Homo sapiens: one gene and its partners. The protein of the gene in region 3 interacts with the protein of the main gene of each other region in a pairwise test. Each region holds a gene or a part of one and is shown on either strand. Other genes may lie near its edges.

Region 1 (3,732 bases), on a different chromosome or scaffold from region 3:
ATACATATGGGTGTGTATATCCTATGTGTGTGTAGTATTTGTGGTGCCTATGGTAGATACATGAACAGAAGTAATTACACTCAACTCTTGACAGCTATTACCTCCATGGAAGGGAATGGCATTAGTTATTGGTGGTGGCAGTGGAGAAGAAAGGAGGCAGAAGGGAGACTTTTCCTGTGCATACCTCTTTATGTCTTCTTTTTTTTATTTTTATTTATTTTTATTTTTTTGACAGAGTCTCACTCTGTCACTCAGGCTGGAGTGCAGTGGCGCAATCTCGGCTCACTGCAACCTCCCCTCCCGAATTCAAGAGATTCTCCTGCCTCAGCCTCCTGAGTAGCTGGGATTAGAGGCACCCACCAACACACCTGGCTAATTTTTGTATTTTTAGTTGAGACAGGGTTTCACCACGTTGGCCAGGCTAGTCTTGAACTCCTGACCTCAAGTGATCTGCCCGCCTTGGCCTCGCAAAGTGCTGGGATTACAGGCGTGAGCTACCACGCCCGGCCCCTCTTTACATCTTTAATACTAAACAAGGAGAATGTACTCCTGTATTACTTGTGCTCCTCAAAAGCAAATGCCTATACATGTATCACTCGCATCACAGCACGACCTGAGATCTATTTCTACTTCTACCCTTAGCTTATTTGAGCATTCATTGTTAAACAGAAATGGTTTACCTGGGACTGGCTTTTCCCCTCTTCTGTGTGACCCTGGTTGAATTATACCATTAATCTGGGCTTCCTTTTTCTCATTTGTAAAATAAGGGAGTTGAGCCTGTTGGTGTAAAAGACCTTCCCAGCACTGACATTCTGTGATTCTATTACAGGTTCCCTTCATGCTCTGAGGCTCTGGGAATCCCTGCTAGGTAAATGACGAAGGGTGGGGTGGGGGGATCTCTTTCCAGAGAAAGAGAGCAAAATGTAATGTTCCACACTCTTACCTGAAGTCCACTATTTCAACTGAAGTAAAATAACGACCCAGAGAGGGCGATGTACTGTACACATCTGTGAGCTAAACAAACAGAAGCAAATTAAACCACACACATTACCGACAGATCATATTACACATCACCTGACAAAGCAAAACTGCTTCTAAGGCAGAGGAGATTCCACTCCAGCCTGGAATCAACGTTATCTGGAAGCTCTGGATCAAGAATTGAGCCCACCATAAATCAAAACTCAAGTTAATGCTACTTCAAAAGAACTCCATTTATAAGGACCAAATGACTCAGTTTCTCTCAGAAGTTGCACTGGCACCCTGTGGCCTTAGTGGTGAGAATATCAGCAGCTGGAGCCCACACAGGCCTCACAGACCATAGGAAGGAGAGAAGAGAAGACCCCAAAATGGCTGCTGGACAGCAGCAGCACAGACCACTTAGCACCTGGGACATTGCTTAGCCCAGGGCTTCTTTCTCCCTTCTCCAGAGCTTCAGTGTAAAGACAAACAGCCATGCTAAGCCATGGGTCTAGCACATCCCCTGGACAAAGAGACAAAGAGGGGAACTGCAAAAATATGGAGGCTTTATTTTATGCATGAAATATTGCAAGCATCATAAAAAATAATGACACCTGTGTTTCCACTACCTAGCTTTCATGTCTTCATATTTGCTATATTGGGTTCAGCCCTTTAATTTAAGAAACAAAATAAAGCTAAAGTGACTCCTACATACTATTCAGTTCCTCCTCTCTCTCTTTCTTAATACTAACCATCATTCTGAAGCTGGCATGCATCCTTTCCTTGCATATTTTTACAAATTACTACTTATTTATGTAATCATAACAAAATATAATTTGTGTTTTTATTCAAATAAAAGGCACCATATTCTACATAATCTTCTAAAACTTGCCTTTTTTCACTCAAAATTACATTTAAGATTTACCCATAAAGTAAATCTCAATGAAAGGCATTCACCTAACTCCTGCACAGATTCCTTTAAATGAGTATACCAGCCTATCCATTCCTCTGATGATGATCACATGCACTATTCTCAATTTTCCCCATCACAACTTATGCTGAAGCAATCATCCTTAATGTCTCCATGCATCTCTTCTTGGACATGCGGGAGTTTCCAATGGGCATATGCCAAGAAAAGGAATTGTTGGGTTTAAGGGTAGGTGCATCTCCAACTTCACAAAATTGTTCTCCCTTTCCCACCCCTCCCAGCAATGTATAAATATCCATTTCCCACATCCTTACCAGCACTTAGTGTTACCAAACTTAAATTTTTACCACTCCGAGGAGTATAAAATAGTGCTTCACATTGTTTTAATTTGTACTGCCTCGCTTACTAGTGAGGTTGAACATCTTTTCATGTTTATTAACTCTTTGGGACTTTTCATCTCTGAATTTCTCACTCATTTCCTTTCCTTCTCTTGGCTTATCTGTCTTTTTCTTATCTATCTGAAGTGGTTAGTTTTATATTCTGGATACTAGTTGTTGATATTATGTTACAAGTATCTTTTCCCAGGCATTGAGTAGTTGTGTTTCAGATATCTGAATCCTAAACTAGTAGTACTAGGAACATGTGCCATCCCCAGCTACAGCCATTATGGCTTAATGACCTATTACTTTATTCAATAACAAGCAGTCGAACATACAAAAAACAGCAGTGCCCTATGGGGAGCTTACCCTGTTTCCCCTCAACTCCAAATGGAATGTCAAGGACGCTGCACTTCCACAATACACTCCCATTTAACTCAACATGTACAACCCATATCTCAAAGAGAACAAAAGATGAGAGTGCCTGCTATTTCTGCTCTTCTAATCTTGTCACTACTGTTGTGATCTTTATAAAAACCTGGCAAAACAGGCATTAATATATCTCCCCTTTTTACTGGAAAATTAAACAGCACTCCATTCCATGAGATGAAGAAAACCTGTCCCAGGTCACTGTGCTAGTAAAAGGAGAAGCCAAAATTCAATCCTACATGTTATGAACACTAAAAACCAGCTTCTTCCCATCTGACCACACTACCCAGTGAAGAAGAAATTGATATATATACAGTGAAGGAAAGTGTCTCCTGAATATCAAGGAGGAAAGAAGCTTAAAGTGACAAAAACTTTCGGAGAAAATGACTGAGTCATTGTACAGCTCTTAAGCCCCAATGCACAGGATGTTGCCGATAGGCTGACAGTCATTTAGAAAACTCGGGAACTAGGAAAGCAGCTTTCACGGGGATGCTGTGATGGAGAGGAGGATGAGGATGCTGCAGAGGAGAATCTTTTCAAGCACTAATGTCAAGCACTCATGTCTTTCTCTTCCTTTTGGATTGAGCTTCCTATGGCAAAGGTGATATTTATCCTTCCTTCCAGTCTTCTCTGCTTCCTCCTTCCCTTCTTTCCTTTATTAATCTTTAGGGCCCAGCACAGTGTTTTGCACATAACAGGCTTTCAGCAAATTTTTAAGTTAAAATTTTAAGGTAACATATGGAGTGGTCGACTAAATCATTTTTAGTGTTCACTCGAAGATTCTTTTTGATCATGCTCCTCTGCTGTACTTAGGACATATTTACATTTGGGGAGCTGTTAGTCACACTGTCCACTTTGGGCCCAAAGAAGTGAAATAGGGTGGTTCCTCAACCCTTAGTCTTGTGTCTCCCACACAATGTCTATGAGGCTTGGTGCAAACTGAGCAAGGAGCTCAGCGAATTGATTAGCTGAGTCTGATGCAGTGGCTAATTAGAGACCAGCTTCCAGAATAAGGCAGGTGCCATCATTAACTCCTAACCC
Region 2 (3,732 bases), on a different chromosome or scaffold from region 3:
CGGATCATCTGAGGTCAGGAACTTGAGACCAGCCTGGCCAACATGGTGAAACCCCGTCTCTACTAAAAATACAAAAATTAACTGGGCATGGTGGTGCATGCCTGTAATCCCAGCTATTCAGGAGGCTGAGGCAGGAGAATCGTTTGAACCCAGGAGGTGGAGGTTGCAAAGAGCCGAGATTGCGCCATTGCACTCCAGCCTGGGTGACAAGAGAGAGACTCTGTCTAAAAAAAAAGAAGCTAAAGAGATATGACGACTAAATACAATACCTAACACTAGTCCAAATCCTGTGCCAAAAAGCAATAAAAAAAAAAAAATGCTATAAAGCATATTCCTGGGTCAACCGACAAAAAAAGGAAAGTTGGCAGTAGAGTAGATAAAGTATGGTAGGAACATTAAATTTACTGAGGCTGATATGTGTACTGTGGTTAAGTAAGAGAATATCCCTAATTTTAGAAAATATACTCTGAAGTAGTTATGAAGAAAGGGGCATGGTATTTATAAGTTTCTCTCAAATGGTTCAGGAAAAAAAAAATAAATCAGATAGTTAAGTAGGTAGGTAGATAAAATGAGAAAACAAATGTGGTAAAATGTTGACCAAAGGTGACTATGGGAACAGGTGTTATTTGAACTTTTCTTATTCATACAACTTTTCTGTAAGTTTGAAATTACTTCTAAATAAATTCAGAAATTAAAAATGAAAAAATAAGCACTGAAACATGAAAATTAACCATATTCTATTGGAAAAAAAGCTTTCTAGAATCTAGTATATACCCCACTATAATAAATAAGCAGAGCACAAAACACAAAGTAACCCTTTTTAATGAGTCACCTAAACATCATTGCATAGCACTGTCAATATAGCTGGTCTAGATCAGGGGCAGTAAACAGCATGCAGGATGTAATTCACCACTCCTATGCTGGACTCTGCTAAACTACACAGTAATCTTTTTTTTTTTTTTTTTTTTTTTTGAGATGGACTCTTGCTCTGTCACCCAGGCTGGAGTGCAGTGGCACAATCTCGGCTCACTGCAACCTCCGCCTCCCGGGTTCAAGCGATTCTCCTGTCTCAGCCTCCTGAGTAGCTGGGATTACAGGCACACACCACCACACCTGGCTAATTTTTATATTTTTAGTAGAGATGGGGTTTTACCATGTTGACCAGGGTGGTCTCAAATTCCTGACCTCAAGTGATCTGCCCACCTTGGCCTCCCAAAGTGGTGGGATTACAGGTCTAAGTCACCACGCCCGGCCTACACAGTAATTTTTACTGTAAAATTCTGATCCATACTGGTCACCTTACTATTTTCTTTCTCGAATAACATAGAAGCAGAATTTATTAATGTTTAGAATAAATATGTTCACAGGATTCAAATTTAACAAGAATGAAAAATAAAAGGGTATACTGCACTTAAAGTGTCTTATCACTCTTGCCCAGATACCCAGTTCTCCTTCCCTTGGGCAATTCAGGTTAGTAATAATTTCTTATGTATCCTTCCTGTGAGAGCTTGTAAGTAAATATGTGTGTGAATATATACATGTGACATATATATATATATATGTATATATATATATGAGACCTTTTTTAAAGACCATCCTAGGCAGCCAAATGGGCTTGCCACCTACTAGTCGTCTATTACTAGTGGTATGGGATATACTAGTGGTGAAATAGTGCTGATCTTATGGTTCTAGAGTAACCTGGTTGTTCCTTTCTGAAGCATCACTTAATACACAGTCATTTAGTGCAATGTTTTTCAAAGTGCAAGTTGTAAACCACTATGTCATAAAACTAGTTTAGTGAACTACAGCATTTTCCAGAAATTGAAATAAAATATAACAGAAAATATTGGAATATTGTTTCATAAAACTTTTTAGTTTCCTATATGTGTATATACAGCATTCACAAAGTAAAATGTATCTCTTAAGGATCATAATCAAATTAATTTAGCCATAGCATATTGCCTTTTTCTACAAATTAATATCTAAATCAAAGGTCAAAATATGCTTTGTCAAATGATTTTCTTTCCAAAAAAAATCTTCACTGTCATTATCAAAGTTCTTTGACATGTCATTAGCATTCAAATATACCCCATAATAACCTCAATAACCTGAAGACAATTGGTAATTGGCTTCCACATCCTAGGAACTCCCAATTGGCTAGCTAGGAGTTATTTGATTATCCTCCATTAATATGACTGAAGTTTTTGGAACCCATTTTTTGTATTATGTCAGAGTCTTACTGTATTTCCATATTAATAACAGAGTCAGCCACAGACACCTACATGACAGTTTATCCCAAATGGTCTATCTTACTTGTGCTAAATGTAACTAGACAATTGTATGTGAAATAAAGGAAACCCTATGTCTTTAACATGGCATGTGAGCATTTTCAGGGAGTCTTTATTTTACTACAGTTGCAAGATTCTCTCTGAAAAGGCTATAGTGTGTTCTATAACATTATGGCTTTTCATAGTAAATTTAGTTTTATAATGCTTTATTTGAAATGCAAAGCTAGTTTTCCCAAAGTATATACAGTTCCATTTATGTTTGTGATGAAAAAAATTCTGCTTTTTCAACAATCATGGGACAGATTGAAATACTCCCACCACTTCACTGAGGACTACTCATAAAATAGTCTAAAGTCATTACAGGCATGCCAGTTTGTGCATGCTTTTGCTGTGTTCATCAGGTTCACCTAGCTAATATTTTATAGACAATCTGGCGGATGTCTATCTGCCTTGAGGAGAAAGAAGAGAAATAGTAGTAAGAGTAATAGCACCACGTAGTTTACTGACCGCTTAGTATGAGCTAGGCCCTTTGCTAAGTATTTTACATATTTAGTTTCATTCTCTCAATAAAGGGGCACTATTATCTCCATTTTACAAATGAAAGAAAAGAAACTCAGAGAGGCTTAGTAACTTATCCAAGGTCACACACCATTAAGAAGCAAAGATAGGATGAAGTTAGTTGATTCCAAGGCCCACATTCTTTCCACAATACAATACCAACTTCCATGTAGTATAGATTAACCAATTATCCCTAATTCACCAATGTTTTTTCACTTTTTCCAAGCCACAAATCAATCTCTATTTTATTCCCGAAATTAAGAGTAATGAAACTTCTGAGTTTTGGAACCTGTATTACAGTTATCTTCTGGAAGCCCTCCCAAACACTCCACTTCATTTTGTACATCTTTACTCCTCCCTCTCTACATTCCAGCCACCCACTGGCCTTATTTCAGATCCCCAAGGATGCCAACCCACTTCCAGCCCTCCCACTTCCAAACTGAGAAACTTCATGATTTTGTCTTCCCCACTTGCAATGCTCCAATTCTGAACTGGCTAATTCCTACATATCCTTCAGTTCTTAGACTGAAAGTCCTTCCCAGAACACACAATCTAAACTGATCCCACTCCTACAGTATATCATAGCAGCTGTTAGTTTTCTTCACAAACTAACCCAATTTGTAATTGTATATTAATATATTTTTGTTGCAATGTCTCTCTCACTAATATACACACTCCATGAGAGCAGGGATGATTTCTGTATTGCTCACCATTATATTCTTAGCACTTAGAATATTTTGTGTCTAGTATACCATAAGTGCTCAGTAAATAAATGAGTGCAAAGGTGGCATCATTCCTTTACTCATTTATACACTAATTTGTTGAGTATATCATGCACCAGTAATTGTACAGCTTAGTAGTATCTACACAAAGCAGCAGCTCAATA
Region 3 (3,500 bases):
CACCATGTTGGCCAGGCTGGTCTCAAACTCCCGACCTCAAGTGATCTGCCCACCTCGGCCTCCCAAAGTGCTAGGATTACTTGTGTGAGCCGCCGTGCCTGGCCCATGTATAAGCTTTTGTTTGGAGACTTGTTTTAAATTCTTTTGGGCATATACCTGGGCAGCACAAAGAGGAGCCTCTGAACAGCTCTGGGGTGCTAAGAAGCTCCTGGATCACCTGCAGGTGGGAATGGAAGCCTTTTCAGGCCACTGAAATAACATGATCCAATGAGATGGCTGTCCTAACACCAAGCCTGAGAGCGCAGGGCTTTAACTCATTCCTTTAACACATATTTATTAAGTACTAATGTAAGCCACGTGCTTTTCTAGGCATCCCAGAAGAGTTATGGGCAACTTTGATTAGGAGTGGGAAAAGGAAAGAGAGGCAGAGATATTTTTGGAGATGGCTCCTAAAGATGTTGTATTCTAAACCCCTTCATTTCCCTCACCCCCACATCTAACCAGTCTCTTGTCTTACGGAGTCTACATCGTATCATCTCCCCAATCCATCTCTCCTTTCCAAGCACGCAATGCCAATTGCTGCTAGTGGTGCTGACTTGGCCCTCACTCCCACCCAGACCCCTGTGATGCATCCTACTGGGTCATGTCTTCCTGCATCACCGGTCCCTGAAGCCTGAGCAATCATTCCAAAACGCAGAGTTGACTATACTCTCCCTGCGCTTAAAATATGTCATTGCCCTGCCGCCCTCACCCATTGGTATAACTTACACAACCCTTCACACCTTAGTCTCTGCTTATATTTCCAGTCCTATCTCCCACCCATCGCATCTGCCCATTGTCTCTTCCATCCCCACGCGGTTTACATTGTTACAGTTCAAAGCATTGCAGTTATCCCCCATTACTTTCAAGTTCTGTTGCCTGTATCCTCACCATTGTTTAGATCCAGCTGGAAAACTCCTGTGCACCCTCAAAGCCCTTTCCAGGTTTCCTCCTCTGTGAAGCCTTGGCCAACTTCCCTCCTCTGGGCTAACCTGGCACCTTGTCTGCCATTCTGTATACACTCTGGAGTCATCATTATTTGGGTCTGTGTCTGTCATTCCACAACTCCCAAGGGCCAGGATAGGAGTGGATTCATCTCTGAATACCCTAGATCAGTAGGTACCCCAACTGCTAGAATGGGGATGTTGGGTCAGGGGGACTGTGGTGTCAAACAAGGTGGAAGAGTCAGATGGGAGCAACATTTTCTGGGGCCATGGGGGAAGATGGCCCCATCCCTTCCTGATAGTCCTCCTCCCAGCAGCTTCAGATTCCCCCTCCAGCTCAGGGGGCCCCCTCACCTCTGCAAGTTTTCCACATTGCAGGAGTCGCTGCCCGACTGCCTGCACTTGGTGAAGCACAAAGCCTTGTCATTCAAGTTGAAGATGTCGTACATGTTGTTGCTCCCCAGGCAGGTGTTTCTTGGCCCTTCGGTGGGCTTTTCCTGACCTAAGGAAGGAATGCAGAGAGTGTGAATGGGCTGGACGAAGATGGGCAGCAAGGATGAGGAGCAGGGAAAGGAGCTGGGGCTCCAGAGTCTGGTGGTTGGGCTAGAATTCCAGCTCCATGCATCACACTAACGGTGCACTTGAGCAGGATGCAGACCCTCTCTGGGGCTGTTTCCAAGGTAAAAGCAAATACCCCATCTCCCAGGGCTGGTAGGATGCTTTGGGGAAAGCATGTACAAAAGGCTTGGCACATGGCTCTGTAAATAAAAGGTTTCATATGTTTGTGCTATTACTCCTTTACCCCTTCCTCCAGGGAGTCTGCCTGGCTTTTCAGTTATTCCACATCAGACCTTCCAAAGCCCTTGCAACTGTGGCCTCCTGGTTAAACTCTTGGATGTATTCTGTCTTGGTTTGCCTCATTCTCCCACATTCACACTATCTTATTTGTGTAAATTTAAAAAATGATGTATTGGCAGGGCGTGGTGGCTCACACCTGTGCTAAGAAGCACACACAACCATCACAGCTACCTCCTGGGACAGGTAGAAAATACAGCAAACCAAGGCCCCTCGAGCAAAATGACTTGAGAAAGGTTACTAGCTAGTTGGAGGCTGCTCCAGGACTAAAGACCAGCTTTTGTGACTTTTAGTTCGGTTCCCTTTCACCTAATACAGGGCACAAAATGGAAGCTTTGGGTCATCTACTAACTGTATGTCCTGAGGCAAGTTACTTAAACAACCTGAGGCTCAATCTTTTGCCAGCAAAATGGAGCTAATAATACATTCCTTGCAAGTTTTGGGAAGGATTAGAGATAAAGGACATACATAGCTCATTGTAGGTGTTCAAAGAGTTTACCATCTTTAACGGTTTATTGCACAGCCTTCTGGAAATTTTGCAGAAGGTATGCATATGCAAGTATTTATAAGTACATCATTTTTTTAAGGAAAAAATGTTTTAATTAAGAAGAGGGGGTTCTCACTATGTTGCCCAGGCTGGTCTCGAACTCCTGTCCTCAAGCGATCCTCCTGCCTCAGCTGCCCAAATTGCTGGATTACAGGTGTGAGCCACCAAGCCCTGCCGATACATCGTTTTTTAAATTTACACAAATAAGATCACTTAACAATATATCTTTTTTTTTTCTTTTGAGACAGAGTCTTGCTCTGTCACCCAGGCTGGAGTGCAGTAGCATGATCACAGCTCACTGCAGCCTAGACCTCCCAGGCTCAATCGATCCTCCAACCTCAGCCTCCCAAGTAGCTGGGACTACAGGCACATGCCACCATGCCTGGCTAGTTTTTCCTTTTTTTATGTTGTTTATTTTTATTTTTTTAGAGACAGGGTTTTGCTGTGTTGCCCAGGCTGATCTCAAACCCCTGGGCTCAAGCGATCCGCTCACCCTGGCCTTCCAAAGTGCTGCGATTTATAGGCATGAGCTACCACGCTTGGACTAGCAATATATCTTGAAGAACTTTTCCACCTCATTCTTTATATAGTTGCAAACTATTCCATTCCATGGGCATTGCAACACTTTTTTAACCGGTCCCCTCTTGGTGGACATTGTTTTTCACAATCTGCCATAAGAATTCTTGAGTGTGCATCTTTTCAGCTTGTGTTGAGAACTCATAGAAAACATTCCTATCTTAGGACTTTCTGTATCTAACTGTATGTGCTTTAAAACACCGCCAGGAAGGCTGAGTGCGGTGACTCACGCCTATAATCCCAGCACTTTGGGAGGCCGAGATGGGTGGATCACCTGAGGTCAGGAGTTTGAGACCAGCCTGGCCAGCATGGGGAAGCCCTACTAAACATACAAAAATTAGCCGGACGTGGTGGTGGGTGCCTGTAATCTCAGCTACTCAGAAGGCTGAGGCAGGAGAATTGCTTCAACCCGGGAGGCGGAGGTTGCAGTGAGCCAAGATCACACCACTGCACTCCAGCTTGGAAGACAAAGAGAGACTCTGTCTCGAAAAAAAAAAAAAAAAAAAAAAAAACTCCTATTCTAGGACTTTCTGTATGTG

Evidence for each region.
Region 1: the proteins of ADGRG3 (region 3) and C3orf52 interact in binary tests that used the Homo sapiens proteins (3 or more experiments, as listed by UniProt).
Region 2: the proteins of ADGRG3 (region 3) and SEC22A interact in binary tests that used the Homo sapiens proteins (3 or more experiments, as listed by UniProt).

The regions. Positions count from the first base shown.
Region 1 is NC_000003.12:112,106,825-112,110,556, reverse strand, and holds part of C3orf52 (TPA-induced transmembrane protein), read right to left. Parts: intron 1,015-3,732; coding exon 944-1,014; intron 1-943. UniProt on the Homo sapiens protein: Has a role in LIPH-mediated synthesis of 2-acyl lysophosphatidic acid (LPA). LPA is a bioactive lipid mediator involved in different biological processes, and necessary to promote hair formation and growth.
Region 2 is NC_000003.12:123,218,711-123,222,442, reverse strand, and holds part of SEC22A (vesicle-trafficking protein SEC22a), read right to left. Parts: intron 1-3,732. UniProt on the Homo sapiens protein: May be involved in vesicle transport between the ER and the Golgi complex.
Region 3 is NC_000016.10:57,671,306-57,674,805, reverse strand, and holds part of ADGRG3 (adhesion G protein-coupled receptor G3 isoform 1 precursor), read right to left. Parts: intron 1,486-3,500; coding exon 1,338-1,485; intron 1-1,337. UniProt on the Homo sapiens protein: Adhesion G-protein coupled receptor (aGPCR) for glucocorticoid hormones such as cortisol, cortisone and 11-deoxycortisol.